Homo sapiens: one gene and its partner. The protein of the gene in region 1 purifies or fractionates together with the protein of each later gene. This does not show direct contact. Each region holds a gene or a part of one and is shown in the gene's direction. Other genes may lie near its edges.

The links. The genes of interacting proteins can lie anywhere in the genome.
Region 2: the proteins of SZRD1 (region 1) and GNL2 purify together in Homo sapiens (co-immunoprecipitation; one large-scale study listed by IntAct). This does not show direct contact.

The regions. Positions count from the first base shown.
Region 1 is NC_000001.11:16,390,314-16,395,509, forward strand, and holds part of SZRD1 (SUZ RNA-binding domain-containing), read left to right. Parts: intron 1-1,061; coding exon 1,062-1,111; intron 1,112-2,914; coding exon 2,915-3,169; intron 3,170-4,724; coding exon 4,725-4,827; 3' UTR 4,828-5,196.
Region 2 is NC_000001.11:37,569,115-37,572,820, reverse strand, and holds part of GNL2 (nucleolar GTP-binding protein 2), read left to right. Parts: intron 1-3,518; coding exon 3,519-3,706. UniProt on the Homo sapiens protein: GTPase that associates with pre-60S ribosomal subunits in the nucleolus and is required for their nuclear export and maturation.

The DNA.
Region 1 (5,196 bases):
ATGCTGGTGCTGATGGGCTGAGGGCTCAGACTGCCATGAGCCCAATGTCCTGCTCAGGGCTTGAAGAGATGAGGCCAGGGCGTGTTGGAAGGCAGTCCTGCCTGCTCCTCCTTCTCAGCCTCTTTCTTCTCTCTGCTTTTCTCTAAAATGGTGGTGTTGTTTTAATCAAGACCTGTCAGGCTCTGGTTCTGAGAGAAATACTTGCTGCACTCTCAGGTGTCTTGTCTCTTCCTCAGGTTCCCCATGTTCACTTGTAGACCATGGACCTCCAAAGCCACAAACATAAGGCATAGGTTTTACTCTAAGCCTTTCGGTAGGTGCCAGTCACAGAGAGTTCAAGTCCGTAACAGTAAAAAATACATTATTAAAATATTAGATATGACCATAAAGGAATGTAAAAGGGAGAGTTTATTCTGAGGACCAGGTGATGCACCATGCTGGTGGGATCAGAGGAGACTTTATAAAGGAGAGGTAGACATCCAGGCTGGGTTGTGCAGGATCAATGGGAGTTTGCAAGGGGAGGGGACATTGCAGGCAGGTGGAACAGCATGCTGAGTTCTGGGGGCTAGTGATAGCAAAACAGAGACAGAAGGTAAAAGAAGGTATGGGTGAGGCATGCTCAGAAGCTTTGACTAGGTCTGCAAGCAGTTGAAGGGTTTAAAGTAGGGAAGTGACATGATCAGATTTATGTTTAATTTTTTTTCCAACTCTTTATTTCATAAAATAGAGTAAGTGTTCCTAAGTTTAGGTTTAGAAGTTGATATGAGTGGCTCTGTGAAAGACAGATTACAGGTCAGAAAACTGGTTGGAGGCTATGCAAAGAACCCAGCTGAACAATGAGGTTTAGAACTGTCATGGCGGCCATGGGGCTAGAAGGGAGATGGACCTGCAGAGGGTATCAGGTCCCCAAACCCCAAAATCTAGTCCACATTTGTTATGTTGAAGGACACAGTCATGTCCCTGGCTAGAGAAAGGACACTGCCCTTAGCTCCAAAAATAAAGACTAAGTTTTTATTTGAGAGAGATTTTTTCCTCTTTTTATATACATTTTTTTCCTCTAGGAAATAGACAGACGGTTGGAAAAAAAACTGAAGATCACACAAAAAGAGAGGTAAGGCTGCTGTCTGGTCTGAGGGCTCATGCTCTCTGTGGTTTGAGAGCCGGGCAGTCAGTGGTGTTCTCCAGCTGGCCATTAGGATTAGCAGGTCCTAGCAGGTCAGGCTCTGGGGCAGCAAACCCTTCCCTCCAAATTGGAGACCAGGACGTGGTGGCTTGAGGCTTTAGGGTTGAGGCTGGGGTGTTGCACCTGCCTCTGACCTTCGTGGGCTCCCTGTGTGAGGTCATCTGATGCAATGTGAGGAAGTGACAAGTTGGAAGACTTGAGTTTTAGGCCTGGCAGTGCCCCAGTTGCTCTGAGGTCTGGGGCAAGTCATTTCCCAGATCTGGACATCAGTTTCTTTCTCTGTGGCATGAGGAGTGTGGGCAGATGATTTCTCTGGGTCCCCAGTGACTTGGTGGTCTAGGGTATTATGAGGGTATCCTGGAAGAAAACATTCTAGGAAATTCTTGAAAAAACCTTTAAAAATAGCTTTGTTTTCCACCTAGACGACAGAGGAGGGTGTTTCCAGAGTAGGTGAAAGTTGACTTCGGCTTTCTGCTTTTGGGCTTAGGGAACCTGTTGGTTTTCCATAGGTACAAGGGACAGGAAGGAGGATAGGGCCCCTCTGGATTTGCTCACGGGGCTGCACAGTCATTCCCCAGGAAACTCTGGGTGCTCTGCCCGCCCGCTAGTTTTCCTGGCTCCCTGCCTCTTTGATCAGATTGCTGGCTCCTTGTCTGTCTGCTCATCTCAGCAACCACGCTAACCCTGGGTTACAGTCCTCGTTCCATACCATTTGTGTCCTACCCGAGACTTGTTTCCATCCACCCTGGCTCAGTTCCTCCAATCCCGACTCCTCCTGACAGCCAAGGCTCTGGAAGCAGGCTTGTTTGGTTCTGAAGAGAAGCTGGTTGACTGCTCTGGGTAGGGTCCTGGTGGCTGTTGTCGGGTGGTCATTCCTGCCTGGGTTCCTGTCTCCTCCTGTGGCTTTTGTTTCTTTCCCTTCCTGTGTTGTTGTCCCTCTTTGTTTTTTGTCATTCCACCTCTCCCTGTGGACACATCGCCTTGATGTACGCGTCCACCAGCCTTGGACAATGCTTTTCTTTTGAGCATTGCCAAGCACTGTTTCTAGGAGCATCCTTCACTCCAGCCCCGCCGCTGTCCAAAAGACCAGGGAGCCCTGGCAAGGGAGGTTTCTCTGTTCAGAAGCTTTTTGAAGAGGATTCAGTTGTCTGGTGTAGCTTGTCTCTGGGAGGCACAGGTCACTCTCACTAGAAGGTGGCTTGGTAAATCTTGATGCCAGGCAGGGATGGCGTAGTGGGCTCCTTTGTAGTGTTTGTCTGGTTTGAGCATGTGATGGAAGATTTGGCTGAGTGAACACTGCTGACCCCCAAGTTCAAAGGCTCCCACCCCACCAGCCAGTCCTACTCTGATCTGCGTAGAGAAGCTGGGATCTTAACTGACGTCATTCAATTCTGGACATAAACTGTTTTGCTGCAGGGCCAAATAGTGGTTGATGTGGCTGTGGTGAACATGGGGATAGAAGTGCCAGAATGAGGTGGCGTTCCAGCCCCTGTGGCCAGGGGTTAGGGCTGAGGAGCAGTTCCTGTGGCCTGTCAGAGCTGGTCGCAAGCTTACTTTTTTGGGACACCCTTCTTGAGGAGTGGAAATTTTGCTGTCTGGTCAGAGGCCAGAGAATCATGCATGGGTAGAATTAGGGAGGGAGAGGAAAGTGATGAGAGGTGGGTGTGGGACATGGACAGGGCCTCCTTAGTCAGGAGCATGATTTGTGAAGCTGTGTTTGCTCTTTGTCAGCAGGAAATCCAAATCTCCTCCCAAAGTGCCCATTGTGATTCAGGACGATAGCCTTCCCGCGGGGCCCCCTCCACAGATCCGCATCCTCAAGAGGCCCACCAGCAACGGTGTGGTCAGCAGCCCCAACTCCACCAGCAGGCCCACCCTTCCAGTCAAGTCCCTAGCACAGCGAGAGGCCGAGTACGCCGAGGCCCGGAAGCGGATCCTGGGCAGCGCCAGCCCCGAGGAGGAGCAGGAGAAACCCATCCTCGACAGGTGAGTGTGGCTGGCAGGGCCGGCCAGTGATGGCTGTCCCAGTCCACCCGGGAAGAGGAGAGCATCCTGGCTGCGTGTAGAGTAGTGAGAAGCAAGCAGAGTCAGGGTAGGAACCATGCAGCTCCACTTGCTGATCCCAGCCTGCTGGCACTAGTTCACTGTGCCGCATTGGCTGGAGAGGGCTCTGAAAGCCTTGCCAGGGAGGAGGTGGCAGTTTGCTGGCATGCTCCCTCTGCGGTTGGTAGTCACCGGGGGCACTGTTGTGTAGAGAGTGAAGGCACAGATGAGCTTGTGTCAAAATCTGCCTCTTACCTCTTCTTTAGAACGACTTGACCTCTCTGGGCCTTAGTTTTCTCATCTGAAAAAATGGGATAATAATAGTACCAACCTTATCAAGGTGTTGTGCAATTCAGTGAGTAAATGAGCATAGGATGTGGAGAGCCTGGGCTGGCAGAGTGGAAAGTACCCCAGATAAGTGCTTTGATGATATTTTCTGGGTCTCCAGTATGCCCACTGTGATGTTTTTGTGAATTTTCTAAATTCCTTTTTACTCTTAACATTTTTTTCTCTGCAGTATTAAAGGTTGCATCATATAAGTTTATCACTTTCGAATCAAACAGTATTCATTAAGATGGCCTCCTTCTAACTTTGAGGGGCTGCTATGGTTTGGTATTCTGGGACTTGAAGAAAAAATCTGCGTACCTTCTTTCTAGCTCTTCATAATTTTGAAGAGATACCTGTTCTTTTTGTTGTTTCTCCTCTAAGTCTTCACCTTTCCAGGGTGGAAAAATAGTCATATGAGTCAACCGTTAACCGCAGAGTTTGGAGAGGAGTGGGAGGGAAGAATTGGGGGGCGGGGGATGTGTCCCTCTGCTGAGCTCTTGATTCCAGTTCTTTACTTTGGCCTAACACTCTGGAGATTCCAAATGGTTCTGCGGAGCATGTGCTATCCATGGTCACTGCCTCTGGGCAGAGTGGGCCCTCAAGCACTCCCCCTGCCTACAAGTGCATGATGGCAGCTGAGCAGGGGGAAAGGATGCTGTAGCTGCTAGAGGTGAATGTGCACCACCGACCCTGCCTGCTCACAGGGGCCTCTCAACTTGGAGGTGCCCTGAGTCAGCTTCCCAAAGAAGCAGGCTTGCGGAGCCAGAGTGACGTGGGCCCAGCTATATGGACAGTTGATTTTAAGATGGGGGACATCTAGGCCAGGTGCAGTAATCCCAGTACTTTGAGAGGCCGAGGTGGACGGATCACTTGAGGTCAGGAGTTCAAGACCAGCCTGGCCGACATGGTGAAACCCCATCTCTACTAAAATTACAAAAATTAGCTGGGTGTGGTAGCATATGCCTGTAGTCCCAGCTACTCGGTAGGCTGAGGTAGGAGGATCACTTGAACTCAGGAGGTGGGGGTTGCAGTGAGCGGAGATCGTGCCACTGCACTCCAATCTAGGTGACAGAATGAGACTCCGTCTCAAAAATAAATAAAAAATAAAGAAATGATGGGGGACATCTATTATATCCTTCTTCAGGCCTTCCTCTGCTTTTCTTCCTTTCAGGCCAACCAGGATCTCCCAACCCGAAGACAGCAGGCAGCCCAATAATGTGATCAGACAGCCTTTGGGTCCTGATGGGTCTCAAGGCTTCAAACAGCGCAGATAAATGCAGGCAAGAAAAGATGCCGCCGTTGCTGCCGTCACCGCCTCCTGGGTCGTCCGCCACGGGTTGCACTGCCGTGGCAGACAGCTGGACTTGAGCAGAGGGAACGACCTGACTTACTTGCACTGTGATCCCCCTTGCTCCGCCCACTGTGACCTTGAACCCCATGCACTGTGACCTCCCCCCTTCTCCCCCTTCCCACTGTGATTGGCACATCGACAAGGGCTGTCCCAAGTCAATGGAAAGGGAAAGGGTGGGGGTTAGGGGAAGGTTGGGGGGACCCAGCAAGGACTCAGAGAGTCAGACAGTGCCACTTGGCCACTTGGGGTAAAGCCAGTGCCAGCAATAACAGTTTATCATGCTCATTAATTT
Region 2 (3,706 bases), about 21 Mb from region 1:
CTTCAGATGGCAGCTTCAGGCTATCCACACTTACGCCCGGCTAACTACAAATTCAGGGGTTCTGGGGTTTGATAATTTGCCAGAAGGACTCCCAGAACCCAGGAAAGTGCTGTGTTTACAATTAACGGTTTATGATAAAGGATGAAACTCAGTCACAGCCAGTGGAAGAGGTGCACAGGGTAAGGTATGGGGGAGAGGCACAGAGCTTCCATGCCCTCTCCACACATTGATGTGTTCAGCAACCCAGAGCTTTCCAAACCCCATCATGTAGGGGTTTTTATGGAGGTTTCATTACATAGACATGACTGATGAAATCTGTGGCAGTTGGTGATAGACTCAATTTCTGGTCTCCCTTCTCTCCTCTGAGTGGCTGAAAGCACCAACCATGTGGTCAAGTGCTTTGTCTTTCTGGTGACCAGCGCATCCCCCATCCTGAAGCTATCTAGGGGTCTACCATGAGTCACCACATTAGCATAAACTCAGGTGTGGTGGAAAGGGGCTTGTAATCAATAAAAAAGATACCCATCGCTTGGGAAATTCCAAGGGTCTTAGGAGCTCTGTGCCAGGAAGTGTGACATTTATATCACAGGGAGACAGTAGGCAGATAAACATATAATGTCAGGAAGTCTTGCGTGCTGTGAGGAAAACTAAACCAGGCTAAGGGGTTTGGGGGAGATGAGGAGTACTTTGGGGTGGTCGGGGAAGGCCTCTGAGGCAGTGGCACTTCAGCAGAGCCCTTAATATGAGACAGGAGCCATGCTAGTATCTAGGGAGAATGTTCCAGGCAAGGGGAACAGCACATCCAGAGCAGCTGGGGCAGGAGTATGCTCTGTGTGTCCTGATGCTGAAAGGAGGTCACTGTGGCTGGAATGTCGTGGGCCAGGAGAGGGTGTCATGGTGGGAAGCCATTGGAGGTTTTGAGTTAGCAGCTGGATTCTAGGGTCATTCTGGATGTCCGTATCACTGCTGTCTTGGGACCCTGTGTGGAAACACTGGCATTGTCTTCAGCCCTTCCTCCGTATGTAGTCAGTAAGTGTAGATAAGTAGTTCAGATAATTCTTAAGAACTATTGTAACCATAATAGATTTGTTGCCCAATGCACACAGCAAGTCAATATGCTGAGACACCACCAGGTTGCAGCAGAGAAAGAAGTTTAACCGTAGGGTCACCAAAGGAGGAGATGGGAGGAATCCTGAAATCATTTCCACGAGGAGTTTGGGGTTAGGGTTTTAAGGGTTTTGGAGTGGGCTGGAGTGAGGGTCATTGGTTGGGTGAAGAGTGCAGGGTGAAGTCACGGACAGGGAGATGAAGAAGCTGTGTTCTCATGCAGATCCCGTTTCTCTGGGGATCTTCAAACTGGTTGCTGGAATTAGGGATCTGAAAAGACATTTTAAGCAATCCTTAAACAAAAACCTTATGATTCTAATGTCAGAGATCTTGCCTATAGGAACAATGGGGGTGCATATCAATTCTTACATAGTCTTATGACCCAAATGTCAGAAATCCTATCTATAGGGACAGTGGGGATGCAAATGGTCAGTACCTAGTGTTCAGGAACTTTTAGCAACAAGGATATGGGCCAAAGTGCCCCCTAATTAGTGCTTAATTATAATTGTATTTCTGTCCAGAACTTGGCAGATACTTCTTGTCAACCCTTTGGAGGCAGTTTCACTCTCATATGCCTTACTCTGTGATTCTGTTTTTCTTTTTTGGTTAAGAGCAGAAACCCCTTCAGAAACTGAAAGCCAAAAATTGCCCTTCCTAGAAAAATGTATGTATAAATTTTGTGTGTGGTTTCCTGAATTTTATAGTTCTGTACTTATTTAGTGATTTGCCCGGCCACTCTTGACTTTAGAACATCACTTTTAAGTTCTCTGAGTTTTTGTTGCAAGGATAAAATGATATTATACATGTGAAACACCAGTAGAAAGCTTGGCACATACTTATCTTTGCGGTTACCTAAAACAGGCCAGTCATTTCAGGGTCCCCAGACTTAGTTCTCTAATGAACTCTCTTCAATCACAGAATTCCCCCTCCTTACCTTATACTCTTGCTTCAGGATGCCTCCTATCTTAGTCTGTTTTGTGATGATGCAACAGAATACTACAGATTGGGTAATTATAATGAACAGAAATTGTTTTGGCTCATGTTTCTGGAGGCTGGGAAGTCCAGTATCAAGGCACCAGCATCTGACAAGGGTCATCCCATCGTGGAAAGTGGGAGGACAAGAGCAAGCAAGAGAGGGTCAAACTTGCTTTTATAACAAACTCACTCTTTTTTTTTTTTTTTTTGAGACGGAGTCTTGCTCTGTTGCCCAGGCTGGAGTGCAGTGGCACGATCTCGGCTCATTGCAACCTCTGCTTCCTGGGTTCAAGTGATTCTCCTGCCTCAGCCTCCTGAGTAGCTGGGACTACAGGCATATGCCACCAGGCCCAGCTAATTTTTGTATTTTTAGTAGAGATGGGGTTTCACCATGTTGGCCAAGCTGGTCTTGAACTCCTGACCTTGTGATCTGCCCACCTTGGCCTCCCAAAGTGCTGGGATTACAGACGTGAGCCACCACATCCGGCCAACAGACTCACTCTTAAAAACGAACCCATCCCCGAGATCCATTAGTCCATTCATGGGGATGGAGCCCTCATGATCTAATTACCTCTTATTAGGCCTTACCTACCAACACTTGCTGCATTGGGGATTAAGTTTCTGTATCAGTCCATTTTCATACTGCTATGAAGAAATACATGAGACTGGTTAGTTTATAAAGAAAAAGAGGTTTAATGGACTCACAGTTCCACATGGCTGGGGAGGTTTCACAATCATGGCGGAAGGTGAAGGAGGAACAAAGGCATGTCTTACATGGCATCAGGCAAGAGTGTGTGTCCAGGGAAACTGCCCTTTATAAAACCATCAGCTCTCGTGAGACTTAATTCATCATAGGAGCGGCATGGGAAAGACCTGCCCCCATAATTCAATTACCTCCCACCCGGTCCTTCCCACAACACATGGGGATTATGGGAGCTACAAATCAAGATGAGATTTGGACACAGCCAAACCATACCAGTTTCCAACATATGAATTTTGGGGGACACATTTAAATCAGAGGACCTCCTCAAATGCCTCTCTTAGTACTGTTCTCATCTGTAACATCCAGCCTGGCCTTCATTTTTATGTAGTTGTGTGTGCTGATTTTGCATGTGCTTATATCAGCAGCCCCCTAGGGAAGGTCTAGGGAGCCTTGCTTTTCTATGATAAATCATTGGTTGGTTTTAATGGTTTAAATAGTCTTAGTTGGTTCATCCTGTGGAACTACACATGTATTCCTTTGATCCTAGTACTGATCTCTGGGCTTAATGTACATTGGTTTAAAAATACATTAATGAAATGACTCAAATTTGGGTGTTTTCAATACCTTCCCTTAGTCCTGAGAAGAGGACTGTTTAAGAGCAAGATATGAGTTCAGAAATTCCATTTTTCATTTTCTGATTCTATTTATTTCCCCCATTTCCACCCCTTAATAGCTTCTACCCTCCTCATCTTTGGAAGTTGTCCCAGAAGCAGCCCAGAACAATCCAGGGGAGGAAGTCACAGAAACTGCAGGTGAAGGGTCAGAATCCATCATTAAGGAAGAAACAGAAGAGAACAGTCACTGTGATGCTAACACAGAGATGCAGCAGATTCTCACACGAGTTCGGCAGAACTTTGGTAA